2 separate regions of the Homo sapiens genome follow, and region 2 is linked to region 1. The links come from fine-mapping of genetic effects on gene expression. Tissue or cell type: blood mononuclear cells. Region 1 holds a variant in brackets; the other region holds the start of a gene. All regions are shown on one strand. Distances are from middle to middle.

Region 1 (5,152 bases):
CAAAATTCAAATTAGTTAAAAGCCCAGGTTAAAACCAAAAATAGTAGATATAAAGATGTTCTTATCCATCATAAGTGTTCAGCTGCTAGCAGCATAAATCCTATTTATATAAGCTATGTAGCAATAGTCTTTATACAGAATTTAGGTATTTAATGGTAAATGAAGATAACAAGTATAAGCAACAAAATTTGTGTTGTAAATATTTTTAAATGAAAAAGGCAATGGGGAAATTGTTAAGAAAATTTACAAGGAAATAACTGGATCACAACTTAAACTACCTAATAAAGCTTACTTATGAATCTAATTTTTAAATTAGCTATACTTACGCTTGTCTTTCAGTAAATATGACATCCAAACTTTGTGTTTCTCGATCATTTTGAGCTTTAAGCTGAATAAAGTTAACACATAAGTTAGTAAGAAATAAATATTAAACCAAATTTTTTCTTTGTAGGTTATTTTGGCTAGGAACTAAATGAGAAATTACTATAATTATCCTAGTGCCACATACAAAGTTTAAGAAGAAAAATAAAGTAATTGCCTCATTTAACAAACAATATCAGATTTTTAAAAAGTCTTTTTAAGAAGCATTGTAATCTTATACCAAAAATATTCATTGTTCTTCAGTGATCTGTCAAATAATTCAATGTAAATTCAATTTATGTAAACAGCATTCAAAGAATATATTGAGTGTTCAATAAATATTTGATTAGTAATATGTTAAATTTAGAACCACCACAAGTTTTATTCCTGAACCATTCAGGATATTATCTGAGTACACCTAATTAACTCTACCTGTGCACACCCAGCCTAGAAAACAGACCCCCCATCCCAAACAACTGACAAAACACATAAGGTTTTTACTTTTTATATCTGGCATTGAAATAAGATTCTTAATTAGTGAATTCTCTTGTGTTCTAAAGCTAAAAGTAACTAAATTATCATGGTTTGAGAACCCCAAATTTAGAAGAGTCATTTTATCAATCCTATGTCTTCATAGAACAGTCTTTACTCATGTAAATAAATTATAAACTATATAAATTATAAATTGTATGTTATTTTCATCCAAATGCTTATAATCAAAATAAGCTAGCTATTAACATATTTTATTGTTTTCTACCAAACAATTAATCTAAGAACATTGAATACAAATTTGTTTTTATTTTAGAATCAGAGGTACATGTGCAGGTTTGTTGCATGGATATATTGTATAACGGTAAGGTTTGGGCTTCTAGTGAACCCATCACCCAAATAATGAACACTGTACCTGCTAGGTAATTTTTCCACCCTTATTGCCCTCCTACCATCCCCCTTTTTGGAGTCCCCAGTGTTATGTCCATGTTAAACACAGATTCTCATTTACCAATCAAAAATTAATATTTTATGTCTGGAGTCATATCTATTCATTTTTCTCCACTGGTGACAAAAACTATGTAAAGTTATCATTTGTCACATTGAGTATTCATCAACATTTGTGCTTAAACTAAGCCAGAAATACTGTAAACTAATATATATAAGGAAATGGAGATGGCACTCCCTAACTAATGTTGCACGTGACACCAGTTCAAACACAGTAGACAGTCACTAAACACCCACTTAGGAAAGCCAATCAACAGGAAGAAAATTTAAAAGAGCAACTAAGGGAGCTCAAGGAATACCTAATAGTGGTATTTACAATCAGAGTAATATTCACCTCTATAGCACTTAAGGTTTTATCAAACTATTTCTAGATATAAATGCTTTGTTTTGTAGGATATGACTTACATAGATCAATTTGCTTTTATAAATTTTCTTACCATATTGTAATCATTCATTACTTCTTCCATTTCAGTGTTGGTATTAAGTTTATCTACCAACTAAAAACAAAAATACAAACAAACAAACACCATTTTGTTAGTCTTTACAC[A/T]TGTTCTCTATAATTAATAATATAGGTATTCAGTCTTACAAATAATGAGTAGTAACTTAAGTATTAATACTTTTGAATATTTTCTATTTTAAGATAAAAACAAATATTGAGCTACCTAAGTAAGCATATATTATGCACCTGGCCAATAAACAAATCACATTTTTAACATGGATAAATGAGCAGTAATAAACAACTCTTCCTGAATATTATATCTTGTGGAGCTTTGCCTGCTCTGAAAAGATGGCTGAGCTTATAAATAAGGGTTTGGAACAGACGAGAGTTTTGGAAAGATCTATCACCCTCTCTTCCCCTGCCAACATCCCCAAGGAGAGAGGAATGTTAGTAGATTTACAAATTTACACTAGTAAGCCGGGCTCGGTGGCTCAGGCCTGTAATCCCAGCACTTTGGGAGGCTGACGCGGGCGGATCACCTGAGGTCAGGAGTTCAAGAACAGCCTGACCAACATGGAGAAACCCTGTCTCTACTAAAAATACAAAATTAGCCGGGTGTGGTGGCACATGCCTGTAATCCCAGCTACTAGAGAGACTGAGGCAGGAGAATCGCTTGAACCCGGGAAGCAGAGGTTGCGGTGAGCCGAGATGGCACCACTGCACTCCAGCCTGGGCAACAAAAGTGAAATTCCGTCTCAAAAAACAACAACAACAACAACAACAAAAAACAAATTTACACTAGTAAAAACATAAAAAGATATTCTTTATCTTCTAATAATTAAAAAAAAATCAACAGGGCTTGCACAGATGGAACAGTAGTAAGTCTACTTCAAAAAGTTAGGCAAGGATATCAGTTGTCAACATAGGATATTTACCTAGTGTCAAACACTATTACATATGTGTTAACTCAATTTTTACAATTACTGTATGAAGTAGATATGATTGTACACATTTTACAGAAAAAGAAATTTAGCAAGCGATAGAGCCAGAATGTGAACAGAAGGTCTACTAAAAGCAAACTATTTGGGTGTAAGGTATATCACATTTTTCATTTATGATATAAATAATAAGTGCTAATAAGGCCTAACATTTATTGAGTGCTAACTATATGTCAGATACACAGCTAACTGCTCTGTATCAGATATTAGCTCATTAAATCTATAAATAGCATATTTTATATGGTAGTATTTTTATATGAATATGCCTAATTTGTTCCAGCATAACTAAAACTCCCTTTCATCTCATGTCATTTCATACCTTTAAAAACTACTTTTCTCGGCCGGGCGCGGTGGCTCATGCCTGCAATCCCCACACTTTGGGAGGCTGAGGCGGGTGGATCACGAGGTCAGGAGTTTGAGATCAGCCTGGCCAACATGGTGAAACCCCTTCTCTACTAAAAATACAAATATTACCCAGGCACCTGTAATCCCAGCTACTCAGGACCGCACCTGTAATCCCAGCTGGTGGCAAGCGCCTGTAATCCCAGCTACTCAGGAGGCTGAAGCAGGATAATCACTTGAACCCAAGAGGCGGAGGTTACAGTGAGCCAAGATCACGCCACTGCACTCCGGCCTGGATGACAGAGCGAGACTCCATCTCAAGAAGAACAAAAAAACAAAAAAAAACTATTTTGCTCACATTTAAAACAGAACATCATTTACTAAAGAAAATCCCAGTGAATAATGGGCTCTACAAAATGTTTGTGATGAATTGTGTAGTCCAGGAAATTTAAGAATTATAAGAGGGCTGGGTGCAATGGCTCATGCTTATAATCCCAGCACTTTGGGAAGCTGAAGCAGGAGGATCACTTGAGCCCAGGAGTTCAAGACCATTGTGGGCAACACAGCAAGTCCCCATCTCTCCAAAAAATTTAAAAATTAGCCAGGCATGCTGGCATGCACCTGTAGTCCCAGCTACTTGGGAGGCTGATGCAGGAAGACCACTTGTGCCCAGGAGTTTGAGGCTGCAGTGAACTACAATCATGCTACTGCACTTCAGCCAGAGCAACAGAGCAAGACCCTATCTCTAAAAAAATTAAAAAATAAAAATAGTCCAGGCACAATGACTCAAGCCTGTAATCCCAGCACTTTGGGAGACCAAGGTGGGCAGATCACTTGAGCCCATGAGTTTGAGACCAGTATGGGCAACAAGGCCAAATCTCATCTCAACAAAAAATACAAAAAATTAGCCTGGTGTGATGGCATGTGCCTGTAGTCCCAGCTGCTTGGGAGGCTTAGGTGGGAGGATCAATTGAGCTCAGAAAGTCTAGGCTGCAGCGAGCCATGATTGAGCCACTGCATTCCAGCTTGGGCAACAGAGCAAGACTGTCTTGAAAAAAAAAAACAACAAAAAAACAAAAAACAAAACCCACCACCACCACCAGTAACAACAACAAAAACAAAAATAAAAAGTTATACTATAATTAGCAAAATTTTTGATAAGCACAAGGTAACACTATCAAGTAGGTATATCATAACTTATCTTATCCTAACCATTATGATAGAATGTTTATTTCTTGTAACACTATTTCTTAATAAGGGTAGTGAGATAAAAATTTGACTTTTTCATTAAATCCAGACATCACTGCTCCTAAAGCAACTAAAGAGTTAGAAAAAAGAAAATTCTGACACTAGAAATTTTCATGGGGCCAATATCACCCAAGGACTGAGCAGTTATCAATATTGCCAGGGGGACTGTTTCTTCTGAAAGTCCACAGGTAGAAGCATCTTTAGTGGAACTATATCATGTTATATACTCTATTTTGACAATGTACACAATATTTCGAGTAAAACATCAAGATGGTGGAAATCTGTATGTTTAATAATTAAATTTCAAAATTTTCAAGATGACAACACTTGATAAAAAATGTGTTTTTAAAGCAATGATCACTGATAGGACCAATACATTTTAGCCACTTTTAAAATTATTTAAATTATTATTTTAACATATTTTAGGGAGAAAAGCATGTGTGCATTTGTGTATGTGTCAGTAAACGTATTTTACAAAAAACAATGGAAGAATATATATTAATCTGTTAAGCCAAGTTATTTCTGGGGAGGGAAATGAAGCAGAAAGTAAAGGGATACTTTATTTGTTGTAATTTTTATGGTTTCATCTTTCCCAATAAGTATGTATTCATGTACTATTTGGTATTTTAAATAATAAATTAATAAATATATTTTTTCATCAAATGTTTTATTGTTTTTGAAATTTTTGAAATTTTTATTTTAGGTTCAGGGGTACATGTGCAGGTTTGTTTTACAGATAAACTGTCATGGGGGTTTGTTGTGCAGATTA
Region 2 (5,152 bases), 31 kb after region 1:
CTGCACTCCAGCCTGGGCGACAGAGCGAGACTCCGTCTCAAAACAACAACAACAACAACAACAACAACAACAACAAAAAGAATAGCTTATATCCACTATTTTCTACTGCTTCATTTCCCAGTATCTCCTGGATTGCTACCGTTTGATTCAAATGACCCCTGCCAATATTGCCAGTGCTGTAAATGTCATCCTACTTTACTGGTGTCCACATTTATATGAAACATCTCCATGACACTTCCCTCTCTTCTGGTTCTTTTTTCTGTCTCCTTGATCTGTCCTTATATAGAGCATTTTCTAAGATACCATCCACCATCTTTTTCTTTTCTCTCTCTAAACTCCCCTTGGGCCCCCTTATCCACACTCAGGGTTTTAACAATTAATAAACTGATTCCACACAACTTCCTTATTTTAGCACTCAGCTTGCGGTGTTTATATCCAAATAATAACATCTCCACTTAGATGTCTAAATATTTCAAAATAAACATATGTAATCCAAACTCATTATCATCTGCTCAAAATTTGTCCTTCCTCTTGGTGTCACCTCCTAGTCACACAAGTAAGAAATTTAGTCCTTGACATCTTCCTCTCCCTTACTCCCATGGCTGGTCACATAGTTCTACTGAGTTTGTTTTGTTTAGTTCTACTGATTTTGTTCCTAAGTGTTTAACAGGTACTTTACTCTCTATTCCTACAGCACTGGCCAATTCAGGGCATCACTGACTCAGGTGGACTATTATACCAGCCTCTTAAGTGGTCCCCTTGCCTAACACACATTTTGCCTATTACTTTCTCTGGGAATCCTTCCATGACCAGTCCATAACTGGTCTTGGAATCTTCGTCTTCTTCAATTTCAGTGTATAGGCCTGTTCTACATGCTACCATGCATCCTGTGTATTACTTTATTCCAGAACCTATCACACCACTTGAAATGATCTGCTTAAGTATTTCTCACCCTTTATGGCAAGAGCTGAATCTTAATCATCTTTATATCCCCAAAATCTGTCTCAGTGATAAGCAAAAACTTTGTTCTCTCTTGTATCTTTTAAATTTCCTCGTACATAAAGGTATTGCCAATTACAAAAATTTACTAAATTGTTAAAAAGCAAACAAAGCGACCGGGAGCGGTGGCTCACGCCTGTAATCCCAGAACTTTGGGAGGCCGAGGCGGGTGGATCACGAGATCAGGAGATGGAGACCATCCTGGCTAACATAGTGAAACCCTATCTCTACTAAAAATACAAAAAAAAAATTATCCGGGCGTGGTGGCGGGCGTAGTCCCAGGAGGCGGAGCTTGCAGTGAGCCGAGATCGCGCCACTGCACTCCAGCCTGGGCGACTGAGCAAGACTCCGTCTCAAAAAAAAAAAAGGCAAACAAAGCGTGTGTTGGACTAAAATGATTTCTCTGTTTCTACACTCTATGTCCAGTACTACTTTTCTGACTTTTCTTAGCATTACTCGTAATCAGTCCTTGGACTGCTTCTATCCTTTCTACAGTCATGCATCTTTATAACTCCAACTATGTGTACGGCTCACTAATCAATGTCTACAGTTCTGCCCTTTCAACTGGGCACCAATTTTGAGTTTTCAATTGTTTATCTGAAATTTCCATTCAGATATCTCATTTGAATATGTTCACATCAATCTTCCTGACCCCACTAGCTCCCTGATTCTAATTCCTTGCCATTTTGAACTCTATGTACAAAGCAAAAGAATTTCAAATGGAAAAAGGAATTTCATGAAATGACTCTTTGAAAAGGAAGACGGTGTATGATCAAAATGGTTTTTCCAGAAGAAAACGAGTACAATAAACATCTCTTTCCAGTGGAAAAGATATTACTCTAGGTTTCCTGCTAACTTTGAGAAAATGTACAACATAAAAAATTTCACCCAATTTTCTTTGCCACCGTTTTACTGTGGTGAAAAAAAGCTTACCATTATATTATTACCAGTGGGATTAAGAGGCGGGCATTAGCAACAAATATACCACTAACTTCGGGGTTATTCAATCAAAGAGTCACACAATTTCCAATTATTCACACAGAGAGGCAGCCTGGCCTTTGGATCCAGAATGATTAGCGATACAAACTAGTGCTGACAAAGTTAGCGGCTGCATAATCTTGCCACCTTAATTAACCCCTCAGGATTTCATCTTCTGTAAAACAGAAGGGTGACATCTACCTTGCAGGGCTGTTGTGAAGACGATAAGTATTACATTTAAAACATCTGCTTCTAATTATTATTACTATCGTTATCCTCCCTAAGCCAACCATTCTCACACAGGTGAATAAGTGGAAAGTTGCTAACTGCCCGCACTGTGATCAACAGACAGAAATAAGTCCCTTCCACTGTAAGAGGCAGAAATGTATTGCTTTGACTAAAATCCTTCAGCCCATCGCGGTCCTTCCCTCTGCTCTGTGCTTGGCGGGTCTCCTGCGGGGGGTCGGGGAGGGGTCGGGCTGTTGGAGGAGGTCTGTTCGCAACCTTCGCTCGACTAGAATTGGTACATGCCTGGCCTGGCTACAGGCCCGACGGTAACAGTTAGCTAAGACCGAGTTTGAATTTGTTTTGTTTGGAGCGGATCAGCATCTCCAAGGCAAGAGAACAGACGTGGGAGGGAGGGAGGAAGAGATGGGACCCGGGGATTCTCACCTCCGCCGGCGCGGAAGGAGGGCAGTTGCCCGGCTCGCGGGTGCCTTAACTTCTTTCTGAGGCCCACGCTCAGTTTTCCTCGGCTCTCAGGCCTACCCACTAACTGCCGTGCGCCGCGGCGTATCCCGGCAACGGGGGCGGGATAGCGGAGGCTCCTCATCCTGAGTGACCAATCCTCCGCCTCAGCCCTTGGTTACACACGGAGCTCTCGCGAGAATTGAGGATATGTTTGTTTCTTCACCACGCTTCAGTGCTTTTTGGAAAAAGTGGAAAACAGCGGGGCGGCTGGAAGACAAACATTTTATGTGAACGTTTGGTTTTCTTGATAATCAGAGCAACCTCCGTGTGCCTTACTTGAAGTAACTCTAGCGAGTTTTGCTATGTCCCTAGGTAACCTCACGTCGGCTAACGTTGTTAACAGGTTACATTTGAAGTTAAGTGGTAGGCAGCATTGTGCAATTTTCTAAACTCCTAATTTGTGGTAGTTTTCCTTCCTATTAGGACGGCATAGCGTACACAACGCATCATGAAGTATGGATGCGATTCTGGCACCAACTGTTCCGTTCCTGCTTTCACCAGAAGCTTTGCGTCTTTAAGCTTCCTTTCATTAGAATTTGGATCCAAGTTTGTGGGGAAGACTGTGAATTCAATGGAAAGTGTCCTTTTTTTTTTTTTTTTTAATTTAAGAACTACTTCACCTTAAATCCCACTTCTCTAATAAAATAACTTTTACTGTATGTTTCCTTCCAATCTTCATTGATAACAGCTTAAATGTGATTGCATATGTATTGGGATTTTAACATTATTTTACACATTATTTCCAACTTGCCTGCCTTCGAGGAGTTAAAAATCAATACAACACAAAATGAGATAATGTTATGTGGCTGAATTCTCCCTTAGTTTGTGAAACATTTTCATGTAATTATCTCATTTGAGCTCACCCTATTTGCAGTGGCCATTTGTCATCCTTTTGGCAGAGTTTCTCCCTTACCCTGCCCCCCAACACCCTTACAGGAACTGAAAGTGACAGATACTGGCTTTCCTAGTCTTCCTTATTACTGGGACATGAGTATTATTGCTTGCTAGACTCTCCAATCTAATTTGGTGGACTCAACTCAAACTTGAATGACAACCAGAAGCAGGACTTCAGAGAGTCTGTTGAAGTAAGGGTGACAGCCGCAGTAACTACATCGTTTCCGAGACTGCAATGTTCTATCACCAGCAACCAGTGTCCAGCATCAGTGTGTTGTTGCAAGCTGCAGTGTTAGGTACTCAGAGGCTTTATTGGGAGGAGAACCTCTAGCTTGTTTCTTCAGCTTCTGGGAGAGTCTGTGAGCTGCTTAATGTCCTTTAATAAATTCATTTTCAGCTTTTATATCATTTATAGATGATTTCTGTTCCTTGCACTTAAGGACCCTGACAGATATTAACAGTTGAAATTGGCAGGACAGATACTATTATCCAAGTTTTAAAGAGATTAAATAATTTGCTTAAGCTCATTTAGGTAGTAAGTATTGATCCCTGTCCCCATTTCTTTTTCATGATGAAAAAGGAATAGAGAATAGGAATACATCTCACTTATTTGCCTCTGAGCTTCCTTAGAGTAGGCACCATATCTTATTTGACTTTGGATCATTATGTATTAGGTTCTGTTGCTTTTAAGGTTATATCAAATTGGAATTAGGTTATATCAAGTTGTAATTTGGTTAGTAATTAGGTTATGTCAAATTTTAAGTTTATTGTAAGACTACTTGTGTTTCAAGTTCCTTTCTGTCTCTAGTCCTTTTCACTGCAATTCTCTCTTCCTGGAATCTTTGTCCCTCTGCTTTTCACTGTCCAAAGTCCTGTTCATCATTCAGGTCTTAACCCAAATGTCTTTTATTAGAGAGGTCTTCTCTGCCAGTCCATACTAGATTAGTGCTCCAACTCCTTCTGGCCCCCCACCTCATTATATGTCCTCAGTGCACCCTGTACTATTCCTATCTGTTAAAAGGTAAACTTTGGCACATTAAAATTTTAAAGAGCTTATTTGAACAGACAGCAATTCATGAATTAGGCAGCTCCAAATCATAAGTGGTTTGGGGCTCCCCCAGAGGTAGTTGAAAGCTTTCAGAGAGTAAATGCAGAGCACAGCAAAGAAATTATTTGACTGGTTAAAGTTTGAGCAGTTGCCTTATTTGGACTGTTCTTGTGGGAAGTTCAAGACGATATAACTGATGACTAGTTGGCCACTTGTGATTCCGTTTTAAGTTTCAGTTTCCTCATGTAGGAACTCAGTGCATTAGAGCGACTTCAGTCTAATGGCCTCCAATTTAATTATTTTAACACTACATATCACTCATTATAACTTGCAGTTATATGTTTATTTTTGTTGTCAAAGATAACAAACCCTGACAGTAGGGACACATTTTTATCCATAATTTACTACTGCAATAGGGAAAATAGTCCAATGTGAAAGGAATTCAACCTTGATTTGTACAGCAGTGATTGGATGTTTTAAAGG

What was found. PIP is the estimated chance that this variant, and not a neighbour inherited with it, causes the effect.
Region 2: IFT74 starts here. The variant in region 1 is fine-mapped to the expression of IFT74 in blood mononuclear cells (TOPMed, PIP 0.97).

The regions. Positions count from the first base shown.
Region 1 is chr9:26,985,370-26,990,521 of GRCh38, reverse strand. It overlaps IFT74 (intraflagellar transport 74), which reads right to left. Exons shown (of 20, transcript NM_025103.4): 7 at 1,794-1,853; 8 at 327-388. Among named protein-coding and RNA genes, the nearest start is that of LRRC19, 18 kb to the left of the region's middle. The variant A/T (reference allele first, on the strand shown) is at 1,904.
Region 2 is chr9:26,954,014-26,959,165 of GRCh38, reverse strand. It overlaps IFT74 (intraflagellar transport 74), which reads right to left and starts at 2,754. Exons shown (of 20, transcript NM_025103.4): 1 at 2,650-2,754. It overlaps IFT74-AS1 (IFT74 antisense RNA 1), which reads left to right and starts at 2,859. Exons shown (of 2, transcript NR_121605.1): 1 at 2,859-3,039; 2 at 3,151-3,386. RefSeq lists a silencer at 1,181-1,475 and enhancers at 2,072-2,806, 2,807-3,542.